Linked DNA regions of Homo sapiens: all the other regions are linked to region 1. Evidence: fine-mapped expression QTL. A gene starts in region 1. Each other region holds a variant in brackets. All regions are shown on one strand. Distances are between the middles of the regions. Region 1 holds the start of SHISA5 (shisa family member 5). Region 2 overlaps SHISA5 (shisa family member 5). Region 3 overlaps PFKFB4 (6-phosphofructo-2-kinase/fructose-2,6-biphosphatase 4).

Region 1 (10,729 bases):
CTGGGGGCAGTGGCTCATGCCTGTAATTCTAGCACTTTGGGAGTCCGAGGCAGACAGATTGCCTGAGCTCAGTAGTTCGAGACCAACCTGGGCAACACAGTGAAACCCTGTCTCTACTAAAATACAAAAAATTAGCCAGGCGTGGCAGCATGCACTTGTGGTCCCAGCTACATGGGAAGCTGAGGCAGGATAATTGCTTGAACCTGGCAGGTGGAGGTTGCCGTGAGATGAGATCACGCGCCACTGCACTCCAGCCTGGGAGACACAGACTGTCTCCAGAAAGAAAAAAAAAAAAAAAAAAAAGACAGAATGGAAAAGAAGAAGTAACAGTCGAAGAAAAATATGGCGTAAAAACAAATCGAAACAATACAGGAAGTAAAAAAAGGATAATGCATACGGGCGCGGTGGCTCACGCCTGTAATCCCAGCACTTTGGGAGGCCGAGGCAGGAGGATCACCTGAGGTCGGGAGTTCAAGACCAGCCTGGCCAACACGGTGAAACCCTGTCTCTACTAAAAAATACAAAATTAGCCGGGCGTGGTGGCACATGCCTGTAATCCCAGCTACTCAGGAGGCTGAGGCAGGAGAATTGTTTGAACTCAGGAGGTGGAGGTTGTGGTGAGCCAAGAACACACCATTGCACTCCAGCCTGGGCAACAAGAACGAAACTCCATCTCAAAAAAAAAAAAAAAAAAGATAATGCAGGAGAGACAAATAGCACAAAAGATGCAAATATAACCCCAGAATATCAATAACTACATTAAATTAATTAATTAATTTATTTTTGAGTCGAGGTCTCACTCTGTTGCCCAGGCTGGAGTGCAGTGGCACCAATCACGACTTACTGCAGTCTCAACCTGCTAGGTTCAAGTGATCCTCCTACCTCAGCTTCCCAAAGTACTGGGCTTACAGGCATGAGCCACAGCAACCCCCGGCCCTCTACATTAAATTTAAATGGAATAAATGCTCCTGCTTTTAAAAAAAGAAATACCATCAGGCGCGGTGGCTCATGCCTGTTATCCCAGCACTTTGGCAGGCCAAGATGGGCAGATCACCTGAGGTCAGGAGTTCAAGACCAGCTTGGTGAACATGGTGAAACCCCATCTCTAGTAAAAATACAAAAATTAGGCCGGGCGTGGTGGCGGGCGCCTGTAGTTCCAGCTACTTGGGAGGCTGAGGTAGGAGAATGGCGTGAACCTGGGAGGCGGAGCTTGCAGTGAGCCAAGATCGCACCACCACATTCCAGCCTGCAGCCTGGGTGACAGAGCGAGACTCTGTCTAAAAAAAAAAAAATACAAAAATACAAAAATTAGCCAGGTGTGGTGGTGCACGCCTATAATCCCAGCTACTCGGGAGGCTGAGGCAGGAGAATTGCTTGAACCCGGGAGGCGGAGGTTGCGGTGAGCCGAGATCACATTATTGCACTCCAACCTGGGCAACAGAAGTGAGACTCCGTCTCAAAAAAAAAAAAAAAAAAAAAGCCAAAAGGTGAAGTGAAAGGGTGAAAGGGTAGAAGAAGACCTGTCAGGAACCCTCAGGCAGGACTGACAGGTGTGCAGCCCTGTGCACCACTCCCAAGAGCACCTGGAAGTCCTTAGTGGATAACTGTGTGCATCTATGACATGGCAACTCCACAACCAGATGTGTTTCCAAGAGAATTCTTACACAGCTCCATAAAAGGAGGTATACCAGATGCCCACTGAAGCTATCTATCATGACAACCATTGTGGATTCACACCATTCAGAGGGACACAGCAGTAGTGGGCAAGGGCCAGATGTGCCACAGCAATGTGGCTAGGTCTTACACTACACCGACTTTGCAAGAACTCAAATAATGAAAAGGATGTACCTTATACATAGCAGACCATAGCAGACGGTTGCCTGTGGGGTGGGAAAGGAATGAAATGGTCCTGACATATTAAAGTAAATATATAGGCCAGGCATGGTGGTGCACACCTATAGTTCCAGCTACTCAGGAGGCTGAGGGAGGAGGATGGCTTGAGCCCAGGAGTATGAGACCAGCCTGGGCAACATGGTGAGACTCCATCTCACAAAAATAAATATGTAAGATAGCGGGGGTTGGTCTTGCCCAGACCCAGGATGATCACCTGCCATGAGCAGAGGAGTATGACCATCTCAACCCTCTACACCGAGGCCAAACACAAAGGAAATACAGAATACGGCAAAGAGCCACACACAGGGGCCTGGAACCTTGGTCCCAGCCATGAAACAGTCTACACCCAACATGCAGGTAAATTCATAGGCTGCGCTGGGAGGACACAGATAGAGCTCACACTGGGGCACATGCTTACGCACTGCACCCTACAGGCTCCACAAGCGGGTTCTGAACAAAGGATACCCCTCAGGGGCATGCGCATACTGTGGGGTATAGTCAAGCCCAAGTACCCACCCTGAGGACATCTTGGCACAGGTACACACCCGGGGTGAGTCACAGGACCAGCTGAGGCCAAGGACCTCTAAGAAACCTGCTCAGCCCAAGGCTCAGCAAGCTGGAGCCCTCAGGGTAGGGAGGAGATGGACAGGGGACTAACTGAGCAGGTCTAGGGGGTCCAGCCCAGAACAGGGGATCCCTAAACCCTCTGCTCCAATGCTCTGGCCACCATCTTGAGAGGGCTGAGAGGCCAGAGGGGCAGAGCTATCTCTCTTCCACATACTCTCCTGTGGGGCACAGGCTCAAGCCACCCACCCTGTGACCCACTGGTGCACCCACCTGGCCTCAGGCACAGCACACCTTTCCTCGCTCCACACAAATTTCTTCAGCACGTCAGAGCAGCAGTATTGGTCATCACAGGTACCACAGCAGAAATCTGGACAGGACTCGGGGAAGAGGCTGAGTCCACGGGAAGCCATACACACCTCACCACGTGCTGGAGAGGAGAAACACATCTGTTCACCTGTGCCCACGGGCCAGGCCCCAGCAGACACAGCGCCCTCCCTGGCACAGCCACCAGACCACACACACACACACATGCTGCACCGTCTCTGAGCCACCCTAGCCACAGGCCACCTTCTGACCCCTGGCCACTGCTCCCCCTCAGCCTTGCCCTATCCCACGGGCCACAACAGAGCTGCCCTAACTGGGCTCCCTCTCTCCCTCACCAGTGCACTGGCCTCCTGATAGGAGGGTGAACTTTCTCAATGTGAGTCTGATGGGGCCACACCCTGCTCTCAAACCTCCCCTAATTCCCACTGCTTCAGGATCAAGGCCCGAGTTTCCAAGCAGGGTCTAAACTGCAGAGTCCTGAAGATCACTCCAGCTCTCCAACCTGTCCACACTCCGCTCACATTCTTGCCTGGTTCCTATCTCCTGCCTTTCAACTCTACTCATCCTTCAAGGCCCTACTCCAGGTGGCCTCCTCCAGAAGCTGCCCAGGCGAGAAGTCACACAGCTCAACACCTGCAGGGGACCAGACACTGGACTGTCCCTTTCTTTCTTTTTTTTTTTTTTTTTTGAGACAGAGTCTCACTCTGTTGCCCAGGCTGGAGTGCAGTGGTGCGATCTCAGCTCACTGCAATCTCTGCCTCCCAGATCCAAGCAATTTTCCTGCCTCAGCTTCCCGAGTAGCTGGGATTACAGGTGCCTGCCACCAGGCCCAGCTAATTTTTTGTATTTTTTAGTACAGACAGAGTTTCGCCATGTTGGCCAGGCTGGTCTTGAACTCCTGACCTCAGGTGATCCACCCATCTTGGCCTCCAAAGTGCTGAAATTACAGGCATGAGCCACCGCACCCCAGCCAGACTGTCTAGTTCTTAATCCTCGTTCACTCTCTCCCTCACTCAACCACAGCAACCTCAGCCCCTGCTGGGCACCACAACTGCAGGGGCCTGGCTCTCACAGACCACCCCATAACCATGATGGCAGGCTAGATCCTGGTCAGAAATTGTCACACCCACCATACCAGCGTTCATAAAGCACTTAGCCCCGCGCTGGGCCTGCAGCAGGTGTCCAGGAAATGTCTGTGCCTTCCAGGAGTTTGAGACCAGCCTGGGCAACAGGGCTCCAAGGCAGTGGCACCATCTGTAGCCCTGGAGCCATCACAAGACTCTCAGCACAGAGTTGGGATCTACTGACATCCTTACAAGTCTCAATAAACGAGGTCATGCTGAGGGGATCTGGCTGACAACAAATGTGGAAAATAACCCAGGTTTTTGGATGACCACAAGGTTTACAAACCTCCAGGAAGATGCTACAGTCAAATGTTCCCATGTATCCTCAGGCTACATTAGCAGAGACCTGTGCCCACTAACAGGAAGGAACAGTACCGGATTCTGCCAGGGCAGACTCCAAAGAGAATACCTAGTCCAGCAAGGCCCACAAGTCCGCAGTAGGCAGGGGACAGGTCTGATGATAGCCCTGAGGCATAACTACATCGGCCTGGAAACAGTCTGCCATAGCACGTGGCCTCTGGAGACCCAGCCAGGCCAGGCACCTGGCCATGTGCAGCATCTGGTGCCCGGGCCTGATCAGGACACCACACACCCCGAGGCTGTCAGTAGAGTGAAGCCCAGAGACAGAGACACCAAGTGACCTCCTTGGGAAGAGGGAACTTTAGTGGGGAGTTGGGGGGAACTGCACTTCTTGGCAGCTCCAGGCAGAACCCTGCTCTGGGCAAAGCCATGGAGCAGAGGATTGGACCATTGACAAGCCCAGTTTGGCCAGCTGCCCACCTGAAAGCTGGTATCATCAGCATGGCCCGTGCCTGGTGGCTCAGGTGAACCCATATGCAGCAAGGTCTTCACAGCCCAATCTGAGCCTCTGAGCTAGGGCTGAAGACACACCGGTGAGGCTGTTTAGGCTGAGTCCATGGCACAAATGCTCTCTGACCCCCAGACCTCACTGAATCAGTGACCGACCCTCCTACAGGCTCACTCCAGGAGTGGGCGGATTCTGGGCACAAGTCTCCCCTTTCTCATTTCTCTAGCCCAGGTCCTCTGGATTCATCCCAGCCCCCAGGAAATACAGCCTTCCCCTCCACGAAGCCACCCACCCCAAAAGGGTCTTTGGCTTCCCATGGGTGGGCAGGGGATTGTTCCAATTCCTAACCCTTTAAAGGACCCGCCCCCAGCCAGCCTTCCAGACTCTGTGAATCACCTATCTGCAACCAACACACACAGTGGTGTCTCCACCCCAGAGGCCAGCCTCAGCGCCGGGCTCTACAGGAACACAAGGGCCAACGGAGGCAGCGGTGGGGGCTCCCAGACATTAAACAGAGGCAAAGAGGGAAGGCCTCTGATGGAGGGGCCAGCTCGCCCTGCAGCCACCCGCCAGACTAAAGCCAGGCAGGGAACCCTACCCTAGCCTCTGGGGACTCCATCCCCTGGAACATGGGCGGGAGGGCAGACCCCTCCCCACCGTTCCAGGACAGACAAAGGTGGCAGCTGCCTGGTGTCTAGGCAGGGTTGTTCAGGCAAGGAGGGTGCTGGGGTGGAGGAGGGGTCCGCAGTCGTGGGGGTTCGCTGACGGCCTCGGGGCAATCAGGGGTCAGTGGGGGGCATAGTGGGGCTGGTGCTGCCCGGCTCGTTGGAGAGGCAGCGCGGGGAAGTGTCTGCCCGGTCCCAGGGCAGGACGGGCCGCCCCCACCCCCGGCTCACCACCCGGAGGCGGCGTTAGCAGCAGCAGCAACAGCAACGGCAACAGGATCCGCGGCGCGGGGACCGGCGCAGTCATGGCTGGGCGGGCGGACGGGCGGACGGACGCGAGCGCCGGGCGCAGTGCCGCCACAGCCTCAGTGATCCGCGCGGCCGCCCCTCTCCCTCGCCCCGCCCCGCCCCGGCCCGGCTGGTTCCCGGAACCTCTGTCCGGGGGAGCAGGAGGAGGAGGAGGGAGGAGGAGGGAGGAGGGAGGAGGGAGGAAGGTGGAAGGAGGAGGAAGGAAGGAAGCGGACGACTTCCCAGCCTCGGGGCCAGCTTCGCGCCCGGGGTCTGCGCGAAAACTTGGTACCGGTTCCCAGACTCGGACAGGCGCCGGGCGACGCACGGAGTTTCCTTCTGCTCACCGGATGCATGGGGGGCGGCGGCGGCCCCCAGCTCTCAGGCCTGGAGGGCGTCCCCGGGAATATGCACCCTGACACTGAGCGCCTACTGTGTGGGCTGGGGGACAGCCACAGCCATCCCTCCCAGCCGCAGTCCCGGCGGATCCTCACTTGCCCGAGGGCTACGTGAGGACTAGGTGAGGCGGTGCGAGGACAGTGCCCAGCGCAGACCTTGGCACTCAGTAGACACTCCACAAATGCCGGTTCCCTTCTACAGGCCCAGTCGCCAGCTCAGAGGACACTCGATCTCCTGCCCCCTGGGACTGACACCATCATCCCAAGGTGATCCCCAGCCCCAGCCCTGGCAGGCTCAGCGCTGGCGCAGTGGGCCAGGACTGAGCTAGAAACTGGCAGCTCCCAGGGCACACAGCCAGGCCAACTTCCCACACAGGGCTCCGCCCCCTCACTTCGGGGCAGGGGTCCAGGCAGAATCAGGGATGTTGAGTCATTCTTCCTTTTATGCCCAGAGTTCCTGACCCACCCCCACTCTGCACCTAGCACAATCAGAACATTTCACTCAAGACAGAAAACGTGAAATGTCACACTAGTGGGGCACCCAGGCTGGGTTGTGCACCCTGTGTGCCACCATATATTTCTCACCTAAAGGTGGGGGCATCGCTGTGGACAAAGAGAAACCCAAGGGGACAATCTGGGATGTTCCCAGTAGTTTCCCAGGCTAGGGTGTTAGAACAGGGAGAGGAAGGCCTGGGTCTCCAATAAGCCCCCATCACCTCCTGGCCAAGAAGGGCTTAAGACTCACCGTGCTCAATACACATGTGGGGGGCAGGGATATGACAGTTCCCAGGCAGGATGCCCTCTGGGAGGGTCTTAGTGAGGGACTGGAGTCACATCCTCCCTGACAGCCCAGCCTGGTTATCCCACCTCTGCCTCCTGAGCGCCACTCTCCAAAGCTGGGTGCAGCCTAGGTCCCCCTTCTGCAGAATGGCCAGTGTATGCTCCTCATGTCCAGCTCTAGAGCCATCCTGTGTTCCACACCCTGGGTGCCCAGCCCTCTGCCTCCCTAAAGGTTGCTCATTCCACTCTGCACCATCCACAAGCTTGGTTTCTTGTTCCTTGGTTTTCCAGTCCCTGCCCCCCAGCCAAGCTCCTAAGAGTTGTTCTAAGCCTGGGCAACATAAGGAGACCCCATATCTACAGAAAATTTTAAAATTAGCTGGGTATGGTAGCAAGCACCTGTGGTCTCAGCTACTTGGGAGGCTGAGGTGGGAGGATCATTTGAGCCCAGGAGATGAAGGTTGCAGTTATGATTGTGCCACTGCACTCCAGTCTGGGCAACAGAGCAAGACCCTGTCTCAAAAATAGAAAAACAAGGCCTGGTGCAGTGGCTCACACCTGTAATCCCAGCACTTTGGGAGGCAGAGGCAGGCAGATCACCTGAGGTTGGGAGTTTGAGACCAGCCTGACCAACATCTCCATGTTGGATAGACATGGACCAACATCTCCATGTTCAGTAGAGCCCCGTCTCTACTAAAAATACAAAATTAGCCAGGTGTGGTGGTGCATGCCTGTAATACCAGCCACTCAGGAGGCTGAGGCAGGAGAATCGCTTGAACTCGGGAGGCAGAGGTTGTGGTGAGCCAAGATCGCGCCATTGCACTCCAACCTGGGTGACAGAGCAAGACTCCATCTCGAAAAAAAAAAATGAAAAAAAAAAGAATTGTCCTTTCCCACCTCCTATGCTTGCCTTTGGCTTCTCTACTCTGCTGCCCCCAACCCCAGATCCTTTAGGGGCCTCTCACCTGGCCTCTTCCTCCCTACTTTTTTGGTCTTTGGCTCTCCCATACCCTCTTATCTGCCCACAGCTCATGGTTGAGCTTGGTGGGTGTTTTGGGCTCCACCCAGGGCTGTGCATGGGCAGGAGTGAGTGGAGGCTAGGATCACCCCAGTGGCTTGGAAATCGCAACCATGCATCTCACAGGCATGTGCCCATGTGTGCAGGCATTTTCTGTGGGTCTAAGGGAGGAGACCACCCCTCATATTGTCTTATGCCCCATTTCTGCCTCCAAAGAAAGAAAAAGTAAAAACTAAAAGGCAGAAATGAAATCCACAAGCAGACAGCCCGGCGCCACACCCTGGGTCTGGTAGTTAAAGATCGACCCCTGACCTAATCAGTTATGTTATCTATAGATTACAGACATTGTATAGAAAAGCACTGTGAAAATCCCTATCCTGTTTTGTTCTGACCTAATTACTGGTGCATGCAGCCCCCAGTCACGTACCCCCTGCTTGCTCAATCGATCACGACCCTCTCACGAGCACCCTCTTAAAAGGGACAGGAATTGCTCACTCGGGGGACTCTGCTCTTGAGACAGGAGTCTTGCCGATGCCCCCGGCCAAATAAACCCCTTCCTTCTTTAACTCGGTGTCTGAGGAGTTTTGTCTCTGCAGCTCAGGCTTGCAAAGCCTGGAAATACAAGTTGCCTGGGGAAAGTGACCCCTCCAAGGCAGAAACCAAACTTGGCCCAGATGCTGTACCAAGGCTAGGACTTGGCCCAGATGCTGTACCAAAGCTAGGTGGCTCCCCAAACCTTCCTACAGCTCTGTAAACAGCAATTTTTTTTTTTTTTTTTGAGACAAGGTCTCACTGTCACCCAGGCTGGAGTGCAGTCACGGCTCACTGCGGCCCCAATTTCCCCAGGAAACTGGGGTGATCCTCCCACCTCAACCTTTGGAGTAACTGGGACCACAGATGCACACCACCACGCCCAGCTAATTTTTGTATTTTTTGTAGAAGTAGGGTTTTTGCCATGTTTCCCAGGCTGGTCTCGAACTCCTGGGCTCAAGCAATCTGCCCGCCTCAGCCTCCCAAAGTGCAACAGCACTTTTATCAAACTCTCCTCAAATACCCAGTTTGTTAAGAATGACTGTGTTCTGCTGGGACCTTGGTTACAGTTTGTAGGTGAGAACTCTGCATCAGGCTGGTGGAGCAAAGCAACACCCACTGATGCTTGTAAAGCCCAGGGTGAGAGTAACCAGGTGAGAATGAGGCCATCAGCCCAGCCCCAGGACTGACTGCAGGACCAGATCGGTGAGTTCTACAGTGGAACGCTTGCTCAAGGATCCTTGCCATTCTTCTTCATTCAGCACCTGGTCCCCTTTCCTCCACATCAGAGGAGGAACACGCTAGATATTATCTTTTTCAGATTCCTTTGCCCCAGGGCAAGAGCTTTTGCCCAGCCCCAACCAATCAGATGTAGCCTCCCTGGAGTCAGTCAGGGGTACTGGCCACCAGCTTTGATGGAGGGCTGCAGCAGTCCTGGCAGAAACATGAGTCTGCACCTGTGGGGAGGGCTGTGTGAGTCACAAAGGCCCCTGCTTCCCCCTCGTGGCAGGAGCAGTGGCATGCTCACCAGGCCAAAGTAGCACTGTGGTTTGGGCTGGAGACGATACTGCTTCGACTTGGAACCTTTCTTTCCAGCCGCCTTGTTGGCTCTGAGGGCTCCACAGTTGCTTTTCATAAATTGGGTTTCTGATTAAGTTGGGCAGAGTCAGTTTCCTCCAACTGACAGAGAAGTTCTCACCAGGGCCGGGCACCGTGGTGACTCATGCCTGTAATACCAGCACTTTGGGAGGCAGAGGTAGGCAGATACCTCTTGAGCGCGGAGTTTGAGACTAGCCTGGGCAACATGACAAAACCCCGTCTCTACAAAAAATACAAAAATTAGCTGGGCATGGTGATGCGTGCCTGTATTCCCAGCTACAAGGGAGGATTGCTTGAGCCCAGGAGGCAGAGGTTACAGTGAGCTAAGATTGCACTACTGCACTCCAGACTGGGCAACAGAGCAAGACTCTGTCTCAAAAAAAAAAAACCTAAAAAAAAAAAGAAAACATCTGGACAAGGTGGCTCAAGCCTGTAATCCCAGCACTTTGGGAGGCCGAGGCGGGTGGATAACCTGAGGTCAGGAGTTCAAGACTAGCCTGGCCAACATGGCGAAACTCCATCTCTACTAAACATACAAAAAAAATTAGCCAGGCGTGGTGGCGTGCACCTATAATCCCAGCTGCTCAGGAGGCTGAGGTGGGAGAATCACTTGAACCAAGGAGGCGGAGGTTGCAGTGAGCCGAGATCGCACCACTGCACTCCAGCCTGGGTAACAGAGCGAGACTGCTTCAAAAAAAAAAAAAAAAAAAGAGAAAACTAGGCTGGGCGTTGTGACTCACGCCTGTAATCCCAGCACTTTGGGGGGCTGAAACGGACAGATCACTTGAGGTCAGGAGTTCCAGACCAGTCTAGCCAACATGGCGAAACCCCGTCTCTACTAAAAATACAAAAATTAGCTGGGTGTGGTGGTGCATGCCTGTAATCCCAGCTACTGGGGAGGCTGAGGCATGAGAATCACCTGAATCTGGGAGGTGGAGGTTGCAGTGAGCCAAGATCGTGCCACTGCACTCCAGCCTGGGTAACAGAGTAAGACTCTGTCAAAAAATAAAAAAATAAAAAAAGGGGAGACAGAGAGAAAGAGAGAAATAAAAAATAAATAATTTTTTTTAAAAAATTAGTCCCCATCAGGAATGGTAGCAGATGCCCAGGGAAATGGGGGTGTCCGACTTGTCATCTGCCTGGTTGGAGCTAAAAGCAGTGGAAGTCCAGGCCTGAGGAAGGAAAGGGCTCTGGCAACTTGTGGCAGGCAGAGGAGACCGAGCTGGTAAAGTCAC
Region 2 (10,119 bases), 25 kb before region 1:
GCTTGGTGGCACGCACCTGTAATCCCAGCTACTCAGGAGGCTTTCTCCAGCCTGGGAGACTGAGTGAGAATCTGTCTCAAAAAAAAAAAAAAAAAGAAGAGGAAGAAAAGAAAAATCTGGGATTTGTCTCACCAGACAGTGAAATTTACAATAAAGGAAATTTTATTATTATTATTTTTTTGAGGCAGGGTCTCACTCTGTTGCCCAGGCTGGAGTGCAGTGGCACGATCACAGCTCACTGCAGCCTCAAACTCCCAGGCTCAAGTGATCCTCCCACCTCAGTCCCCCAAGTAGCTGGAACCACAGGCATGCACCACCACACTCGGCTATTTTTTTATTTTTTGTAGAGACAGGGTCTCACTGTGTTGCCCAGGCTAATTTTTAATCTTTAATTAAAATTTTATTTTTTAATTTAATTTTTTTTTTTTTGAGACAGAGTCTTTCTCTGTCACCCAGGCTGGAGTGCAATGGTGCAATCTCAGCCCACTGCAGCCTCCGCCTCCCCGGGTTCAAGTGATTCTCGTGCCTCAGCCTCCCGAGAAGCTGGGACTACAGGTGCGTGCCACCACACCTGGCTAATTTGTGTATTTTTAGTAGAGATGGGGTTTCACCACGTTGGCCAGGCTGGTCTCGAACTCCCGACCTCAGGTGATCTGCCCACCTTGGCCTCCCAAAGTGCTGGGATTACAGGCCTGAGCCACCGTGCCTGGCCTTTAATTAAAATTTTAAATAAAATAAAACTCCCTATTAGGCCCACAAAGCCATGTGTGGTCTGGAACTGCCCCCTCTCCTTCAACCTCTGTGCTGAGTCCCATCCCCCTCCTTTCAGCTTTGAAAGCACCATGCTGTGTCCTGCTCAAGGCCTTTGCACATGCAGATACTCCTGCCAGCTCAGCCCTTTCCTCCTTTCATCTCAGCCACACCTAACTCATTCCTGCTCACCCCTCAGGCCTCAGGTCACTTCCCCAGGAGCACCCTCCCCACCATGCAGAAGAGGCCAGGCCCCTCAGCACATGCCCGCACGGAATTAAATTCCTTTCTACTTCAGTTCATAAACACACACTCTGTTGTGTGTGAGCATTTGATCAACTACGTCTTGCCCCTGCTTTGTACCATTATCATCCAATACAGCTTTCGGCCACCACTATATTTCCAGTGCCTAGCATATAGTGAGTGCTCAATAAAAAAAAAATTTTTGCATAATGTTGTGAATTAATCAATAAATATTGGACAGGTAAATGAATAAATTCACTCAGAGACCCCACCCAGGCACGGTGACCTTAGAAAACCAAGCAACATTCAAGGGGTGGTTGCAGAGCGGGGCTAGGGTACAAGGCCACACGTGGCTACAGTACCAATGGAACTACGCCTCCGAGAGGAAGGAATGGGGTCTCCCAAGGCTGGGGCCAAGCTCAAAAGGCAGAGTCGGCCCAAGCAGGAGGGAGCAGAAGGCAGAGGGGCAGCCACCCCGGCAGGGAGTTTGGGCAGGATTGTAGGGTCTGGGGAGAACTCGGCGGCCTCCAAGAAATGGAAGACTCCAAACCTTAGACAGTGAACAGGCTGGCTCTGGACCTGGGATACCCGCACCCCCACCCTGGTGTCAGCAAGGCCCCAGACAGGCTTGAGGGCCTGAGAACCACAGAAAGGACGCTTTGAGGGCTGGGAGGTAGCACCGGGGCTGTGGCCACACCTCGCCTAATGGGCCTCTCTCCCTTTCCCCTGCACTGTGGCAGTGGAGTCACAGCAGAGGGTCAGTGGTGGCCTCCTTGGGGTCTGCAGCCAGAGCTTCTGCCATTCGGTACTTAGAAACCCAACAGTCTTGCCCGACAGTCCTGTGAGTGCAAGGAGCTGGGAAGAGGACATGACAGTAGGATCCAAAACAACCAGGAGACTATCTGGGGAGTGAATAAGGCAAGAATGGCTGGAGCCACTCACCATTAAACAGAGATTCACTTGCCAAAGTCTAGGGGGCAGAAGACCTGGGCCAACCCTGAGCCCACAAATAGGGCCACACTATAACCCCTGCCATGGGTGGCATCCTCCTGCGGCAGGGGTTCTGGGCCAGGCAGATGTGGGCCCATCTGGATCCAGGCTCCAGCCTGCTGCCTCATGCCTAGGGAACTCAAAAAGTAGCCCAGGTCGGGCACAGTGGCTCAGCCTGTAATCCCAGCATTTTGGGAGGCTGAGGCGGGCAGATCACAAGGTCAGGAGCTCGAGACCAGTCTGGCCAACATGGTGAAACCCCATCTCTACTAAAAATACAAAAATTAGCCGGGCATGGTGGCCGGCACCTGTAATCCCAGCTACTCAGGAAGCTGAGGCAGGAGAATTGCTTGAACCCAGGAGGCGGAGGTTGCAGTGAGCAGAGATTGTGCCACTGCACTCCAGCCTGGGCAACAGGAGAGAAACTCCATCTCAAAAAAAAAAAAAAAAAAAAGTAGCCCAGAGGGAGATAGCCAGAGGCAAGGGTCCCAAAATAAGGAGAGGAGGAGGGGTCAGTGGCAGAGAGTGGGGCAGAGCTGGGGTGGGGCTCCTGGCCTGGGGTCTTTCCCCTGCCTGGCTTCTCCTGAGCTCCTGGCCATGGCCTCGACAGCAGGGGCCAGGCCCTCAACATGGAGCCAACTCTCCAGTGGACAAACAGTGCCCTTGGCCAAGTAGGCAGCACATGGATGCCCAGCAGAGGATGTCTCCTTGGGACCCAGACAGGCAGCCACCTGAGAGAGTTCAAAAGAGAGGAGTCATTGATGACCCTGTCCCCCTCCCCTCCTCCCAGCACCCACTTCTTTGGCTCCTGCACCTTTATAAAGCAGGTCCTAGGCATGAGCTGGGGCTCAGAACAAAGCAGAGGACAAGAGATGACATGAGGCGCGGGAGGGGGAGCATCACTCCAGTCACCTGCTCTTCTCGATGCATGGGCAAAATAGCCTGGGGCAGGAGGCAGCAGGGCACGCCAAGCACACGGCACACGAGGCCCAGTGCTATGCACACCACGGCGGCAGCTGGGCTAACAGAACAGGTCCCACATGCACACCTTGGGGAGTCAGAGGTGCCTCTGAGCTGGCCCCAGTCACCTCCCTGCTGCCACAACCCCAGGAAGCCACTCCTCCTCCTATGCCCCTCTGGGAGCTTGTTCCGCACTGTCTCCTCCTTGTTGTCCCAGCTCAAATCTATAACATTGAGAAAAAAAAAAAAAAAAGAAACAGAACAACCCTTCACATGGATTCTCCAACTCCTTTTTTTTGTTGTTGCAACCTCTGCCTCCTGGGTTCAAGTGATTCTCCTGCCTCAGCCTACAGAGTAGCTGGAATTACAGGCACCCGCCAACACGCCCAGCTAATTTTTGTTATTTTTAGTAGAGACAGGGTTTCACCATGTTGGCCAGGCTGGTCTTGAACTCCTGGCCTCAGGTGATCTGTCCACCTCAGCCTCCCAAAGTGCTGGGATTATAAGCATTAGCCACCACGCCCGGCCTCCCTTTTAAAAACAAAAAACAAAAAACACGGGGTCGCCCAGGCTGGAGTGCAGGGATTATTCCCAGGCAGGATCATACCTCACTGTAGCCCTGAACTCCCGGCCTACAGCGATCCTCCTGCCTCAGCCTCCCAAGTAGCTGGGACTACAGAAGTGTGGCACTGTGCCCAGCTTCAATGCCTGTCTTACTCCTCATCCATTCACGGCTAAAACTCTCCAAGGAGTTGCCTGCGACCAGCATACAATTTCCAACTGCTCTTCAATCTGCTCCACTGCCTCGCTCTTGCCCAGGGTGCCATGGACTCCGTGGTGTGAAATCTCCATTCCACAGCGCACTTCACCACAAGCCTGCCCTCCTCCAGTGTCCAGCCCCTGCTCCTTCCCACTCCCTCCACACCCTGCCTTGTGGGAGCTGCTGAATGTAAGTCTCCATCCTCACCTCTTGCCACCAAGCTCTGGCTCTCTCTGGCTCTCTCTGGCCTCCAGCGCCTCTGGCCAGGAAGCCGCCTGAGGCCACCTCCTACAGAAACGACTTCCCACCTCCCACACCCACCCCATCTGCTCTTTCCATCTTCCACAGAGCAGCCAGTGTGGTCTTCCTAAAACTCCATTCGGTCCCCAGCGCTCCCAGAACCCTCTGTGATGCCCACTGTCCTCAGGACGAGGCCCACTCCTTGACTGCCTCCAGGCCCACACAGGCTGGGCATAGGCATCTCCCACGGGGCCATCTGAAAGCCCACAATCCTGGGCCTCAGGGCAGGACAGCCGCTCCTGGGCTCCTGGACGTGGAGGGGAAGGCCTGTAGAGATCTCAGGCTCCAACCAGCCCTGAGGTGTTGAGGAGGGGCACAGCTGCACTTCTTCCCCTCCTCCACGCACAGGAGCCCTGCCCTGATTCTGCTGTAGCCAGTGAGGCCCCACACCTGCCTGGGCCTACAGGATGGGATGGGGCAAAACAAGAACCCAAGCCCCCCACTCAGGCCCAGAGCCCAAGGTCTCTTCCTCCAAAGGGGAAACCCTGCCCTCCTGGGCAGACCTTTTCTTTAAGCGGCTTCTAGATCCACCAGGGAAGAGGGGAGACAGCAAGTGGAACAGACCCAGGCAGGAAAGCCCGCCCTAGTGGCTGCACACCCATTCCACCTCCAGGAAGATGTCACAACTCCTGTTACGGTGGCAATAACACAGGCCGGAGCCCAGCCAAGGGGACTGGGGTTTGGGGGCTGGGGTTGCTCCTTGGTTCCCTGAGAGGAGAGTCCTGACACAGTAACCATGACCCACAAAGCTTCACACAGGAACTGTGGCATCATTGGTTGTCCCAGGACCTCTCCCCACCGTTATCACCCCAATACCATGTGCTTGCCAGCACCACCATCACCCCATCACCATCACCATTGTCACCAATGCCCAATCACAATATACCCGCCCCCATCTACCATCATCGCATGCCCACTACAGCCCCTTCTCTGTCACTCCTGCCCCCATCGGGACCCATCAGTCATCTGCTGACTCAACCCAGCATCTAGGTCAATGTACCCCGGACCCCTGGCCCTTCAATTGTCAACCCCCGACCACAGTCACCCACGTCCCCACCACCCCAGCACACTAATGAAGACACCTTCACAGCATAAGGAGCAAGTGTCCTAGTGGTCAGATATGGTGACAGTTTCTTGGGCTCCACCCCAATGACCGAATCATCCCAGTCCCCCAGATGCACACTGGCCCCCCTGAGCCCTCTTGTCACCTTTGCCAGGAAGATGCACCCAGCCAGCAGGCTTTACTTACCCTGACATGGGGTCGTTGTAGCCAGGGCGAAACCTCAGCGCC[G/T]AGCCCAGCTGCTCCACCGGCTCTACACTGGCAGGCACGCTGCAAACAGGAAACCTTGTGATTAGCACAATGAAGCCCCACCGAGCGCCAGCACAAACACTACCTTAGGGCACCACAAAACGTGCACAGAAGCTACTATGAACCGGTGGCTTCAATGGCCTTCCAGAGGTGGACTCTGCCCACACCGGGATCTCATAGCACAAAGCCACACATCCTCTCAGGTGTCCACCAGACTGTCTCCAGGAGAGAACATATGTTAGGCCACAAAACAAGTCTCAGCAGATTTTAGAAGACAGATACCATACAAAGGATCTTCTCTGACCACAACAGGATGAAGTTACAAATCAGTAACCACATTGCCACAAAGTTTATTATAATTTTTTTTTGTTTTTGAGATGGAGTCTTCCTCTGTCACCTAGGCTGGAGTGCAGAGGCACGATCTTGGCTCACTGCAACCTCCGCCTCCCAGGTTCAAGCGATTCTCCTGCCTCACCCTCCTGGGTAGCTGGGATTACAGGCACCCGCCACCATGCGCAGCTAATTTTTGTATTTTTAGTAGAGACAGTGTTTCACCATATTGGCCAGGCTGGTCTCGAACTCCTGACCTCGTGATCTGCCCGCCTTGGCCTCCCAAAGTGCTGGGATTACAGGCGTTAGCCACCACACCTGGCCTACATTTCCACAAAGTTTTTTTTTTTTTTTTGAGACAGAGTCTTGCTCTCTCGCCCAGGCTGGAGTGCGGTGGCGCGATCTCGGCTCACTGCAAGCTCCGCCTCCCGGCTTCACACCGTTCTCCTGCCTCAGCCTCCCGAGTAGCTGGGTCTACAGGCGCCCACAACTACGCCCGGCTAATTTTTTGTATTTTTAGTAGAGACAAGGTTTCACCGTGTTAGCCAGGATGGTCTCGATCTCCTGACCTCGTGATCCACCTGCCTTGGCCTCCCAAAGTGCTGGGATTACAGGCGTGAGCCACCACGCCTGGCCTCCACAGAGTTTTTTTAAAAAGTACTAAAACAACAACAACAACAACAACAAAAAACTCCTACCTTGGGAAACTAAGAAGGTACAAAAAAAAAAAAGCAAAATAAAACCAAAACTCTTGATTTGTATTGTGTTAAATAAGAACTCATAAAGGATACTTACCTGGCAGGGGAGAAGATATCATGATCACGAAGAAGTAATAAAGGAAACTAACAAGTATGTAGAACTAAATGATGAAAATACATCAAAATTCGTGAAACACAGATAAAATAGTTCTTAGAGGGAGATTTGTATCTTTAATAGAATTTATCAAGAAATGGGGGGGCCGAGGAGGGTGGATCTCAAGGTCAGGAGTTTGAGACTAGCCTGTCCAGGATGGTGAAACCCCATCTCTACTAAAAATACAAAAATTAGCCGGGCTCAGTGGCATGCACCTGTAATCCCAGTTACTCGGGAGGCTGAGGCAGGAGAATCGCTTGAACCCAGGAGGCGGAGGTTGCAGTAAGCTCAGATCACGTCACTGCACTCAAGCCTAAGTGACAGAGCAAGACTCAAATGTCAAAAATAATAATAATTTATCAGAAAACAGGAATGGTTAAAAATAAATGATATGGGCCAGGGGAAGTGACTCATGCCTGTAATCCCAGTGCTTTGAGAGATCGAGGCAGGCAGATCAACTGAGGTCAGGAGTTCGAGACCAGCCTGGCCAATATGGTAAAACCCCGTCTCTATTAAAAATACAAAAATTAGCCAGGCGTGGTGGCGGGCACCTGTAATCCCAGCTACTCTGGAGTCTGAGGGAGGAGAATTGCTTCGACCCAGGTGGTGCAGGCGGCAGTGAGCCGAGATCACACCATTGCAATCCAGCCTGGGCGACAAGAGCGAGACTCCATCTTGAAAAATAATAAGAATAAATAAATAAATAAATAAATAAATAAGATGATATTAAACTCAAGATGAGCTGGGCGTGGTGGCTCACGCCTGTAATCCCAGCATTTTGGGAGGCCAAGGTGGGTGGATCATGAGGTCAGGAGTACAAGACCAGCCTGGCCAAGATGGTGAAACCCTGTCTCTACTAAAAATACAAAAAATTAGCTGGGTGTGGTGGCAGGCGCCTGTAATCCCAGCTACTCGGGAGGCTGAGGCAGAGAACTGCTTGAACCCGGGAGGTGGAGGTTGCAGTGAGCCAAGATCGTGCCACTGCACTCCAGCCTTGGCAATGGACCGAGACTCTGTCTCAAAAAAATAAAATAAAATAAAATAAAATAAAATAAACTCAAGATGATTTCTTTAAAAGTAATGGAAAATGTGGCCAGGTTGGTGGCTCACGCCTGTAATAACAGCACTTTGGGAGGCTGAGGAGGGCGGATCATGAGATCAGGAGTTCGAGACCAGCCTGGCCAACGTGGCGAAACCCCATCTCTACTAAAACTACAAAAATTAGCCTGGTGTGGTGGTGGCCGCCTGTAATCCGCTACTCGGGAGGCTGAGGCAGGAGAATTGTTTGAACCTGGGAGGTGGAGGTTGCTGTGAGCCAAGATCATGCCATTGCACTCCAGCCTGGGTGAAAAGAGCAAGACTGTCTCGGCCGGGTGCAGTGGCTCACGCCTATAATCCCAGCACTTTGGGAGGCCGAGGCGGGTGGATCACAAGGTCAGGAGATCGAGACCATCCTGGCTAACACAGTGAAACCCTGTCTCTACTAAAAATACAAAAAAAATTAGCCAGGCGTGGTGGCGGGCACCTGTAGTCACAGCTACTCGGGAGGCTGAGGCAGGAGAATGGTGTGAACCCGGGAGGCAGAGGTTGCAGTGAGCCGAGATCATGCCACTGCACTCCAGCCTGGGGGACAGAGTGAGACTCTGTCTCACAAAAAAGAAAAAAAAAAGACTCTGTCTCAAAAAAAAAAAAAAAAGTAATGGAAAACCCAAAAAACAAGGAAGAAATTAATAAAGGTAAGTGCAAAAATAAACCAGAATAGCCATAGAGAATAATAGAGAAGATTAGCAAACCAAAGCTAATAGACTTCTGACAAGACTAACCACGAAAAAGGAGGGCAGCCAAGTGCAATAGCACACACCTGTGGTCCCAGCTACTCAGGAGGCTTAGGTGGGAGGATCACTTGAGCCCAGGAGTTCCAGGCTGCAGTGAGCTGTGATCACGCCACTGCACTCCAGCCTGGGCGACAGACTGAGACCCTGTCTCGAAAACAATAAATAAATAAAATAACATAATAACATTATTTGGATTCCGATTTGGACAAACCATCTGTGAAAAGGCATTTTGGAAACTAGTGGAGGCAACTGAACACAGTATTTAAAGCTATCAGTGAATTACTGTTAATTGTGCCAAATATGATAGTGGTTATATTGCCCTTATATTGGAAGGGAAATAGTTATATTTGCCTTCAAGGACCTCATTTTTAGCAATGAAAACTCACTTTTTTTTTTTTGAGACAGAGTCTCGTCTCTTGTCGCCCAGGCTGGAGTGCAGTGGTGCAATCTCGGCTCACTGCAACCTCTGCCTCCCAGGTTCAAGCGATTCTCCTGCCTCAGCCTCCTGAGTAGCTGGGATTACAGGCATGTGCCACACACCCGGCTAATTTTTGTATTTTTAGTAGAGATGGGGTTTCACCATGTTAGTCAGGCTGGACTCGAACTCCTGACCTTGTGATCCACCCATCTTGGCCTCCCAAAATTCTAGGATTACAGGTGTGAGCCACCGTGCCCGGCCTTTTTCTCTTTGACACAGGGTCTCATCTGTCACCCAGGCTGGAATGCAGTGGTGTGATCACAGCTCACTGCAGCTATGACCTCCCGGGCTCAAGTGATCCTCCCACCTCGGCCTCCCAAGTAGCTGGGACTACAGGCACATGCCATCCCACCTAGCTAATTTTTTTTTTTTTTTTATTGATCATTCTTGGGTGTTTCTCGCAGAGGGGGATTTGGCAGAGTCATAGGACAATAGTGGAGGGAAGGTCAGCAGATAAACAAGTGAACAAAGGTCTCTAGTTTTCCTAGGCAGAGGACCCTGCGGCCTTCAGCAGTGTTTGTGTCCCTGGGTACTTGAGATTAGGGAGTGGTGATGACTCTTAAGGAGCATGCTGCCTTCAAGCATCTGTTTAACAAAGCACATCTTGCACCGCCCTTAATCCATTTAACCCTGAGTGGACACAGCACATGTTTCAGAGAGCACAGGGTTGGGGGTAAGGTCATAGATCAACAGGATCCCAAGGCAGAAGAATTTTTCTCAGTATAGAACAAAATGAAAGGTCTCCCATGTCTACTTCTTTCTACACAGACACAGCAACCATCTGATTTCTCAATCTTTTCCCCACCTTTCCCCCTTTTCTATCCCACAAAACCGCCATTGTCACCTTGGCCCGTTCTCAATGAGCTGTTCGGTACACCTCCCAGACGGGGTGGTGGCCGGGCAGAGGGGCTCCTCACTTCCCAGTAGGGGTGGCCGGGCAGAGGCGCCCCTCACCTCCCGGACGGGGCGGCTGGCCGGGTGGGGGGCTGACCCCCCCACCTCCCTCCCGGACGGGGCGGCTGGCCGGGCGGGGGGCTGACCCCACCACCTCCCTCCCGGACGGGGCGGCTGGCCGGGCGGGGGGCTGACCCCCCCACCTCCCTCCCGGACAGGGCGGCTGGCCGGGCGGGGGGCTGACCCCACCTAGCTAATTTTTTGAATTTTTTGTAGACATAAGGTCTCACTATATTGCCCAGGTTGGTCTGAAACTCCTGGACTCAAGTGATCCTCCTGCCTCAGCCTCCCAAAGTGCTGGGATTACAGGTGTGAGCCACTGCACCCAGCCAAATACTAATATTTAAGAAGAACTTTT
Region 3 (10,729 bases), 20 kb after region 1:
AAATGCATGTTTCTGCCACCAGTGTACATTCCTGTGTGGACACGGGCAGCAACAGGGGAGAGGCCGCCTCCCCATTGGCTGCCAGTGTCCACAGCCAGGGAAGGGGAGAGGGGGCGGCAGCCTCTCCCTCGAGCACTTCGGTGTGTGCACCAGGAAGGTAACTTCCTGCCCTGTCTTGAAGTGGTTTCACTGTGAGAGCAGGCCTGAAGGGGCACCCCTGGCCACCAGCTCCCCTAAGCATACCTAAGTAGCCGGGTACATGCACAACTGGGGAGGGGCGACCACAACTGCCCCCCTGCCCTCACGTTTCTGTGCATCCCAATGTGCTGAAGCAAGCGCATTGCTTTCATGAATGCCCACAACTAAGGGTGACATGGATACAACGGCCTGGCCAGTGGCTGCCCAGGAAGCATCTGCTGTGGTTGGGGCTCTAGTTCCTGGTGGGTAAGGATGGGAAGGGCTCTCCCTCTCACCAGAGGCAGCAGAAGCTCAGGGCCCCATGAAGACCTGGCCTCTGGCTCAGGAAGTGGCCACAGAGAGGATGGTAGAGGCCCTGTGGAGAGTCACCAGGTCCATGCTGGGCAGCTGGGCCACAGTAGGAACATCACAGCAAGCACTTTCCTTTCACATTGTAGGGTTTCACACTTCACAAAGCCAACTGAGCTGGCGAGAGTGAACACCTAAGAGCTGCGCCGGAAGAAACTGGGGCTGGGCAACCTCCGCGCAGCCCATGCAGATGCAGTCTGGTCAAGTGACTCTTAGCAGCAGGTCAGGAGCCACGCACAACCTTGTCGCCGACTGTCAACAAAGAGCCAGGTGGGCTGGGGTGGGGGCTCTGGGTTCCGCCAGCCATGTGTGGCTTCAAGAATATCCCTGCATGGCATGGTGACTATCACACACACTGGAGGGCCTGGAATGACCCCCTCTGCAGAGAGCAGTGCCTGCCTAGTGGTCACAGTGGATGAACATGGTCACTGGTGAGCAGGCACCGTGACAAGGGCTTCCTCTGGAGGTCTTGAGATGTCCACGTTCTGTACAATAAAAACACAGAGCGTTCACTCCATGGCAGGAATAGATGAGATGCCTGCTGTCTGCCGTCCTCATCACTGTGGTTCATCAGGCTTCACATTCTCACTGTAGCAGCCACAGCCGCAAGACTCTAGACCACAAGCTTCCCTAAGAATACATGGCCAAGAGCTTCGTGCCACATAGCGGGTGGATGGACAATAGAACAAAGGTGCGGTGGAGGATGCCACCTCGTTTCCTGCTCCACTGCAGCCAGGTCAGGCAATACCCAAAGCAAGGCCACTCCCACCTCCTATCTCAGGGCTGAGTCAATTGAGGAGGAACCCCTGGCTTGGGGATTTTATCCTCATCTGTGGGGCAGGGAAGGGGTTCAACTCCTGGGGGTGCCTCCTTCCTAGTTTAAAGTGTTGGCACGCAGGTGTCAGAGGTGCCCCAGAAGCCTATGGGCATTTCCTGGTCTGCAGCCTGGTCTGTCCCCTCAGAACTGGGGTACAGGGCCTCCTGAAGCCCTCAGCTATAGAAGGACCCCACCAAACTGCAGAGCTCAGTCCCATCCTTGGCCTGTCGGGCTCAGGGAGTCTCAGGCCTGAGGAATAGGGAATCTGAAACTTCCCTTAGCTCTCTGAGGCTGTCTTATGTGCCCCAGAGCCTGGTGGCCCCTCCTCCCAGCTGTGGGCCCCGGAACCATCACCTGCAGGAGCAGGTCACTGATGACCTGAGCTGCTGCCCCATGCAACATGACATGCCCAGATCTTCAGGGAGAGAGACATGGCCCCCATGGCCCACAGCCTGGGCTCATAGGACCGGCCCCTGGAATTGTAGGGGCAGGTATAATTCTTACTGCTGGGCAGGCTTCCTGAGGCGCCCCTTTTCCACCACAGCCTGCCCCAATGGATGGGCCAGAAGGGAGCCATCCAGGAACCTGGGGTTAGTAGCGGTTTGCCTCTCAGAAGCACCCACCCATAGTGGGCAGAATGACCGCCAGCCACACTATGGTGATGGACTGGTAGGGTCAGCTCCCAAGGGCTGCCAGGCCCAGGGACCTCTCTTACCATCACCCTGCCAACCCAGGGGCCTCTCTTACCATCACTCTGTCAGCGCTGGGGGCCCAGTGCCATCTGGGCCTTCCTTGGCCCAAAGGATGCCCGTTGGGAGGTACGTTCCCCTGTGACTTGTGGGTACCAAATTGGGCCTGGGCTGAACTTGGCCAAGACATGCACGAACTATCAGAGCAATGGGAAGAGAGGCCTGCAGGGTAACTGGTCCTGCTTGGGGGCAGTGGTGTTGGGAAGGGACAGGACACATCTACACACCTGTGCTGTGAGGTCCAAGGCCAGATGTCCTGGTCCAGCCCAAGACGTGCATCCTCAGCAGGGACCCAGAGCCCAAGCAGGCCCCATCATGGATGGCAAGAGGCATGACTGAGGCCCAAGAGCCTTCTCCGTGCAGTGGCCTCCAGGAACTGGGACCGGGGCTCCCAGAAGTGTAGGTCCTATCCTTGGCCCCAGTGGGAGAGGGAGCCAACATTGTGGAGGGACCCCACATGGGACTAAGAGTGGTTCTGAGCTACACTCTGAGGAGCTTCTACCTTCCACAAGGCACTTGGGGAGCACAGGTGGTGACTGCTTTTCTGGACCAAGGTCTCCACCCCATGCTGAGGCCCCTTCAGTATCTGCATGGCCCTTTCCCCAAAAGTACATGATCCCATTTTAATTTTTAAAGGTGCTGGGGTTAGGAAAGGGGCTCATGAGGCCTCGGCTGCAGGGATGGGGAGTGGGAAGAGTGCCCACCTGCCCTCAGAAGGCCAGAAGCCTCATTCTTAGCCTCCAGCCTCATTCTCACTGAGCCCAAGGGCCCCCTTGACTTAGACCTCCAAGTTGCTGCTTGGGAGCCCTGTGGCTCCTCAAGTCCTGGGGCTCCAACCACACCCAAGTTCAGGCACTCCTGAGCCTGGTGGCCCAGAGTCAGGGATTTCCCCATCCCCAGGGCAGGTGCCTTGGGAAGGCCTGATGCAGGCCCCACCCAGAGCCAGGGCCCCGCCCTGCTGATGGGACAACAGTCTTGGCAGAAGACTCAAGCTCCCTCTGGCAGGTGCCGCAGCTGGGCCTGGCCCTGGAGGATGTGCAGTCTGGACACCCCCACATCAGGAACACCCCGCTACCCCAGCAGTGACCCCATTGCTACCTGAGGCCTGTCCCGGTGCGTGTTCACAGCAGCCACGTTCAGGAATATGGACTCCACTTTACAACCTGCCAAAGGGAAGATGCAAATCCATCCCCACTCCTGAAAGGCAGCTGAGCTGCAGATGCTAGAAACTTCTCTTGGAGGGGGGTCTGGGCGTGTGGAATGGAGCAGCCATCTCAGCCTCACTCTAGTTCTTCCACTTTAGGCAGCTCTGGGGAGCCCCGGGAGGAAGGATGAGACACGCTGTCAGACCCACGCATATCTATGTGACGGCCCAGACAGGGCCACACAGAGGCCCCAGGCTCCCCAACCCCAGGACCGAGAGGGATCGGGGGAACAGCAGGCCTAAGTTGAGGTTACTGACTCTCAAAGTCTTCAGGGCCCCCAAACCACCCACATTCCAACTCTACCATATAAGGCCCAGTCAACCGTGTGCCAGGTGCACAGTGCAATGGGGGATGAGGCCATTGTCACACACTGGAGTGACATCAGCTGCCACTGGGCTTCACAGCCATTCCCCCAAGAGCACCTGTGTTAAAGGTGAAGAGCTAAGACCTGAGAGATGAAGAAGTTGCCTGAAGTCTCTGCTGGTATAGCAAGAGGCAGGGTGGGGACTCACACTGCCCTGCACCCAGAATAAAGTCCAGGCCCTGAGGACCAAGGGGCCTTGTGGGGGTTCAGAAAAATCAGTAGAAAAGCCCCTCATGCAGGTAGGCAATGGTTAAGCAAAGTCACTGGGGAGGTCTTCTGTGGCCACATAAACTTTTTCACAACAAACTTTTTTTTTTTTTTTGAGACAGGGTCTCGCTCTGTCGCCCAGGCTGGAGTGCAGTGGTGCGATCTCGGCTCACTGCAAGTTCCGCCTCCCGGGTTCATGCCATTCTCCTGCCTCAGCCTCCCAAGTAGCTGGGACTACAGGTGCCCGCCACTACGCCCAGCTAATTTTTTTGTATTTTTAGTAGAGATGGGGTTTCACCATGTTAGCCAGGAGGGTCTCTATCTCTTGACCTCGTGATCCACCCACCTCGGCCTCCCAAAGTGCTGGGATTACAGGCATGAGCCACCGCACCCAGCCCCAGAACAAACTTTTTAAAAGCAAATTAGGGCCGCAGATGGTAGCTCATGATGGTAGCTCACGCCTGTAATCCCAGCACTTTGGGAGGCCGAGGCAGGTAGATCACCTAAGGTCAGGAGTTCGAGACCAGCCTGACAACATGGTGACACTCTGTCTCTACTAAAAATACAAAAATTAGCTGGGCATGGTGGCAGGCGCCTGTAATCCTAGCTACTCGGGAGGCAGAGGCAAGAGAATCATCTGAACCCGGGAGGTGGAGGTTGTAGTGAGCCTAGATCACGCCATTGCACTCCAGCCTGGGTGACAAAGCGAGACTCCGTCTCAAAGAAAAAAAGCAAATTGGGAAAGGTGGTGGGGTAGTAGGTGGAGGAATGGGCTCCTAACACAATTTTCAAGGAATTCGGAGAAAATCATGGAACTGTGCAGAGATCCAAGGTCATGGCTACCCATGGTCAATGTGCAGGAAGCTTCCTTACCATATGCCACAGGAGTCAGCTTCAGGACTGTGTGCAGCGGACACTTGAGGTAGGGCAGCTGTTCTGTAGACACAGAGGGGGATGGCTAGCACACCAGAAATGCCTGGTGACAGTGCCTACCTTCTCACACAACCTTCCCACCTCCCCCGGGGCACAGCCCACACCTGCTGCCTTGTCGAGGAAGTAGGCCAGCAGGCAGCGCATCACAGCCTGGTGGCAGATGACCAGCACATTCTCTTGCCTCTCCAGCTCCATGATGACAGGCTCCAGTCTCTGGACCAGGTCCTCGTAGGACTGCAAGGGCAAGCAGAGAGGGGTCCCTCAGGCCTGGCTCCGGGGGAGGGACAGACACATCCTGGACACTGGGCCACCTTCCACTCCTGCAGCTACTCACCATTCTGGGAAGCTGTGGCTGGGCCTCCTCCAGCCTAGCCTTCTGAGGCCATGGGGGTGGGCAGCTGAGGAAAGGGGCCACCTTTCCCACCTCAGGGCTAGGTCCTGGTAGGATTGAGAGCGCAGAGCTAGGCCTCAGGCTCCATCCCAGGGTCCACCTCAGTGCCCACCCATGGGGCTCTGCACTGAATCCTCAGCTATAGAATTCATGTGACTGGTGGAGAAGACCTCGCCTGCTTCCAGCCCACAGCAAACAGAGTGCACTGACAAGAGCGAAGGGGAAGAGAGCAAAGACCTGGAACTTTCTGGAGTGTGACTCATCAGAAACAGCTGGGGTCCCCAGGAACTATCCTCAGTCTACCTGCCCAGTATCTTCCCCCTATGCCTGCCGTGATGTACGGTTTAGGCCCCTGCTGGGCCTCTCAACCTGGCAGGTTTAGAGATTTTCATCAGTTTCATCCTTCTGCACACAATGAGTGGTCCTTCAAAAATGGCCTCCAGCAGTCAGAACTGAACGTGCCCCAAGCTTTGATTAGGAAGCAAAAATGACACGCTGATTTGTGCCAGTTCCTGGTAGTTCTGAGAAAATCCTAGACCGGTTCTTTTGGTAACATGAATTTCTCAACCAATTCTCCTCACTGTATTCTCATGTTTGAGCAGCCAGCTGCTTTGTTTCTCCTGACCGTTATCTGGGTTGGTTCTAAATCTGAACTTGGCCTAACATAATGTGGGGAATAATTAATGTTCCCAAGAGCTATA[C/G]TATCCTGAGGATGGTACAGTGTAGAGACCTGTCAGCCTGGCTTCTGGGTGGAGGTGCTTCTACATGTGTATATATATGTGTACATATGTGTGTTGACGGGGTGTATTTTTATTTGGCCCCTGCCCCAGGCCACCTCCTGGAAGTGGAAGGAGATGCCTCAGTCAAAGGTGACCCTCAGTTTCTGACCTGGGGCCTGGGCTGAACTGTGTCAGAGAAGGTGACAAGTGCAGTGGCTTGTGGTAGCCAACTCATGTGTGGAAGGTCTCCCTGGGTCTGGTGCCAGGGCTGGGGGTGGTGCCTGGAGCCACAGGAAGGACAGGATGGGCTCAGCCTGTGACAAGAGGAAGCATCCAAAGGAAGGATGAGGCCCGAGACAGGGACTCGAGTGAGCTGAGACCCGAGTCCCAGGCCTGCCATGGTCTCCCCAACTCCCCAGCCATTTGAGCGCCCCGGAAAGGGCTGACAACTCGCTGGGAAAGGAGCTGGCCTGGGAATGCCAGGGGACCGCACACTGTCTACAGGGGTCCCAGGAAAGCCTAACTCCGCAGATCCCCCACCTCAGGCCCTGCCCTTCCGAATTCTCCACCCCTGGGAAGGGGAAAGACAAGAATGGAGAGCAGGGAGCCAAAGGTCTCCAGGTTGAAGGCCTGCCCTACATGGCACTGCCCACTCCACACCTGAGGAAGGGACTAAGGCCTGGGCTGCATAGCTGGGAAGGGGTGGAGATGAACCACACACCCAGGCTGGCAGGCCTCTGAGACCAGGCCCCTTCTGCTACCCACGCAGCCCCTGCAGAGCCCCACAGGCCCTCAGCCACAGGTGGTACTCCCAGGCGGGCAGTAGGTGGCTGGGACTAAGCCCCAAATCCCACCTACCTCCCCTTTAGGGTACCGGTACCGGTACTTGTCCTGGTCCCGCAGGGCGAACTCCAGTGGATAATTATCCTGAATTTCCTCGTAGGTCATTTCCTCACAGACGCCCTAGGGAGATACCACAGTCATCACACCTCCTACAGGCCCAGAAGATGAGCCTTGGGGACATGTGGGGTGAGGCAGCATCAAGCAGAAGAGACCAAGTTCACGGGCATTTCCTGGGTGAAGGGAACAGAAACCTGTCTAAGGAGGGGAGGACCTCTAGGAACACTGATCATTGGTGGTTCCTTGCTTGTAAAAAGCTACCAGGATGGTCTTGTCCACCTATCCATCACCCATCCAATACACACAGAGATGCTATGTGTTTTTTCTTTTCTGTGCTGTGGAAATAGTACTTGTGAGTGTAGGTTGTTATGCAAACTATGAAGGAAAACTTCACTTGTGTTATTTGGGATACACACACACACACAGAGCATAGATCATCTTCTACAAATGCCATTAAAAAAAAAAAGCTGGCTGGGCGCGATGGCTCACGCCTGTAATCCCAGCACTTTGGGAGGCTGAGGCAGGCGGATCACTTGAGGTCAGGAGTTCAAGACCAGCCTGGCCAACATGGTGGAGGAGGCAGTGGTTGCAGTGGGCTGAGATTGTGCCACTGCACTCCAGCCTGGGCAACAGAGAGAGACTCCCTCTCAAAAGAAAAGAAAAAAAAAGAAAAGTTGGCTGGGCGTGGTGGCTCACAGCTCACAGCCTGTAATCCCAGCACTTTGGGAGGCTGAGGCAGGTGGATCACCTGAGATCAGGAGTTCAAGGCCAGCATGGTCAACATGATGAATCCCCGTCTCTACTAAAAATACAAAAATTAGTTGGGCGTGGTGGCGCACGCCTGTAGTCCCAGCTACTCAGGAGGCTGAAGCAGGAGAATCGCATGTACCCAAGAGGTGGAGATTGCAGTGAGCCAAGATTACGCCACTGCACTCCAGCCTGGGGAAGAGAATGAGACTCTGTCTCAAAAAAAAAAAAAAAAAGATGGGGACATATTGGATTAGAGTGGGTCCTAAATCCAGTCATTGGTGTCCTTTTAAGAACGCCATGTAGGCCGGGCACAGTGGCTCATGCCTGTAATCCCAGCACTTTGGGAGGCTGAGGCAGGTGGATCATGAGGTCAGGAGTTTGAGACCAGCCTGGCCAATATGGTGAAACCCCGTCTCTACTAAAAAAATACAAAAATTAGCCAGGCGTGGTGGCTCACGCCTGTAGTCCCAGCTACTTGGGAGGCTGAGGCAGAAGAATCTCTTGAACCCGGGAGGCAGAGATTGCAGGGAGCTGAGATCATGCCACTGCACTCCAGCCTGGGTGACAGAGCGAGACTCCATCTCAAAAAAAAAAAAAAAAAGAATGTCATGTGAAGGCACAGACAGACATACATAGGGAAGAAAGCCATGTGATGACCGTGGACAGAGGTGGGATTGGAGTGATGAGGCTATGAGCCAAGAAATACCAAGGATTACCAGCAACAACTGGAAACTAGGAAGAGGTGAGGAAGCGTTCTTTATTAGCACCTTCAGAGGGAGCATGGCCCCGCTGACGCCTTGATTTCAGACTTCTAGCCTCCAGAACTGTGAGAGAATCAATTCATGTTGTTTTAAGCCACTCACCTGTAGTGCTTTGTTACGGCAGCCCTAGTAAACTAATACTTTTTTTTTTTTTAACATTTAGTGGTTTTTTTTTTTTTTTTGAGACAGTCTTACTCTGTCACACAGGCTGGAGTCCAGTGGTGTGATCTTGGCTCACTGCAGCCTCAAACTTCCCAGGCTCAGGTGATCCTCCCACCTCAGCCTCCCAAGTAGCTGGGACTACAGGTGTGCGCCACCACACTTGAATACTAACACATATTTTGGTACCAGGAGGTGAAGTGCTGCTGGCTGCTGTAATAAAGAACTAAAAATGTGGAAGTGGTTATGAAATGGGATAGTGGGTAGAGGCTGGAAGAATTTTGTGGTGCATGATAAAAAGCTTAGACTGTCTTGAAGAGACTGTTAGTAGAAATTTAGACATTAAAGATTATTCTGGTGAAGGCACAGAAGGAAGTGAAGAGGATGACAGAGAAAGCGTCCATCATCTTTTTTTTTTTTTTTTTTTTTGAGACAGGGTCTCACTCTGTTGCCCAGGCTGGAGTGCAGTGGTGCAATCTCAGCTCACTGCAACCTCTGCCTCCCATGTTTAAACAATTCTCCTGCCTCAGCCTCCTGAGTAGCTGGGATTACAGGCACAGGCCACCATGGCTGGCTAATTTTTTGTATTTTTAGTAGAGACGGGGTTTCGCCATGTTGACCAGGCTGGTCTCGAACTCCTGGCCTCATGTGATCTGCCCATCTCGGCCTCCCAAAGTGCTGGGATTACAGTCATGAGCCACTACGCCCGGCCAGCTTCCACCATCGTAAAGAGCACATATATCATCATGAAAAGAACGTTGATAGAAATATGAACATTAAAGGTGCCTCTGTGAGCCCACAAGGGGAAATGAGGTACCTTTTCCTGGACCCTAGAGAAAAGGTAATCCATGTTATAAAGTGGCAGAGAATGTGGCTAAACTGAGTTCCCATGTTGGACGGCTACAACCAAGACTGATGGTAACAAGCGCAGGCGGGTATGTGGAGAAATCAGAGCCCTCACACACTGCGGGAGGGAATGTGAGATGGCGAAACAGTGTGGCAGTTTCTGAAAAGGTTGAATGTATAATTACCATATGACCCAGCAATTCTACTCCTAGCGTACAGTGAGGAGAAATAAAAATATAAGTCCGCACAAAAACTTATGCCGGATGCGGTGGCTCATGTCTGTAATCCCAGCACTTTGGGAGGCCAAGGCAGGTAGATCTCTTGAGCCCAGGAGTTTGAGACCAGCCTGGGCAACATGATGAAACCCCATCTCTACAAACAAATACAAAAATTAGCTGGGTGTGGTGGCGAGTTCCTGTAGTCCCAGCTACTTGGGAGACAGAGGTGGGAGGATTGCTTGAGCCCAGGAGATGGAGGCTGCAGTGAGCTAAGATCGTGCTACTGCACTCAGCCTGGGCAACAAAGCAAGACCCTGTCTCAAACAAACAAACATAGAAAACACCTTGGACATGAATGTTCACAGCAGCATTATCCACATAGCCCAAAAGTGGCAACAACTCAAATGCCCATCAACTGATGAATGGATACATAATGTGTGGTATATTTATATAATAGGATGTTATTTGGCAATGTAAAGGAATGAAATACTGCTACATGCTACACGAATAAACCTTGAAAACATTAGTGGTAGCTTAAGGCAGAAGGAAGGGTTAGAGGGAAATGGGAAGTGACTGTTGATGGGCACAGGATTTCTATCTGGGGTGATGAAATGTTCTAAAACTGATTGTGGTGATGGTTGCACAACTCTGAACACACTAAAAACCACTGAACTGTATACTTATTTATTTATTTATTTATTTATTTATTTTTTTAGAGACTGAGTCTCGCCTTGTCTCCAAGGCTGGAGTGTAATGGCACGATCTCAGCTCACTGCAACCTCCACCTCCTGGGTTCAAGTGATTCTCCTGCCTCAGCCCCCCGAGTAGCTGGGATTACAGGTGTGCGCCACCACAAATGGCCTGAACTGTATATTTTAAATGGGTGAATTCTATGGTATATGAATTATATCTCAATAAAGCTATCATTTTTTTAAAGGAACTATAAGGCAATAAATTGTGGATTAAACTAAGAAAAAGTCATAATGTTGGAATAGAAGACAAGCCCAAGGCTGTTTATCAGAAGATAAACATGGAAAGATGATTAATGGATCATAAAAACTGTAATAGTTTCAAAACTTGAAAGATGAAGGAAATCCACAAGCATCTTGGAAAATAATCAGATTAACTTCAAAGGAAAAAAACTGGGGTGGCTGCAGGCTTCTC

The links. PIP is the estimated chance that this variant, and not a neighbour inherited with it, causes the effect.
Region 2: its variant is fine-mapped to the expression of SHISA5 in whole blood (TOPMed, PIP above 0.99).
Region 3: its variant is fine-mapped to the expression of SHISA5 in whole blood (TOPMed, PIP above 0.99).

What each region holds. Positions count from the first base shown.
Region 1 is chr3:48,498,407-48,509,135 of GRCh38, forward strand. SHISA5 (shisa family member 5) reads right to left here and starts at 5,768. Exons shown (of 6, transcript NM_016479.6): 1 at 5,613-5,768; 2 at 2,731-2,887. The coding sequence starts at 5,688. RefSeq lists silencers at 5,423-5,472, 5,483-5,962 and an enhancer at 6,300-6,853.
Region 2 is chr3:48,473,925-48,484,043 of GRCh38, forward strand. It overlaps SHISA5 (shisa family member 5), which reads right to left. Exons shown (of 6, transcript NM_016479.6): 3 at 5,253-5,333. Among named protein-coding and RNA genes, the nearest start is that of TREX1, 13 kb to the left of the region's middle. RefSeq lists enhancers at 347-1,206, 5,548-5,597. The variant G/T (reference allele first, on the strand shown) is at 5,295.
Region 3 is chr3:48,518,776-48,529,504 of GRCh38, forward strand. PFKFB4 (6-phosphofructo-2-kinase/fructose-2,6-biphosphatase 4) reads right to left here. Exons shown (of 14, transcript NM_004567.4): 10 at 6,790-6,894; 11 at 4,926-5,055; 12 at 4,762-4,824; 13 at 3,211-3,275; 14 at 1-1,031. The coding sequence ends at 972. Among named protein-coding and RNA genes, the nearest start is that of SHISA5, 20 kb to the left of the region's middle. The variant C/G (reference allele first, on the strand shown) is at 5,914.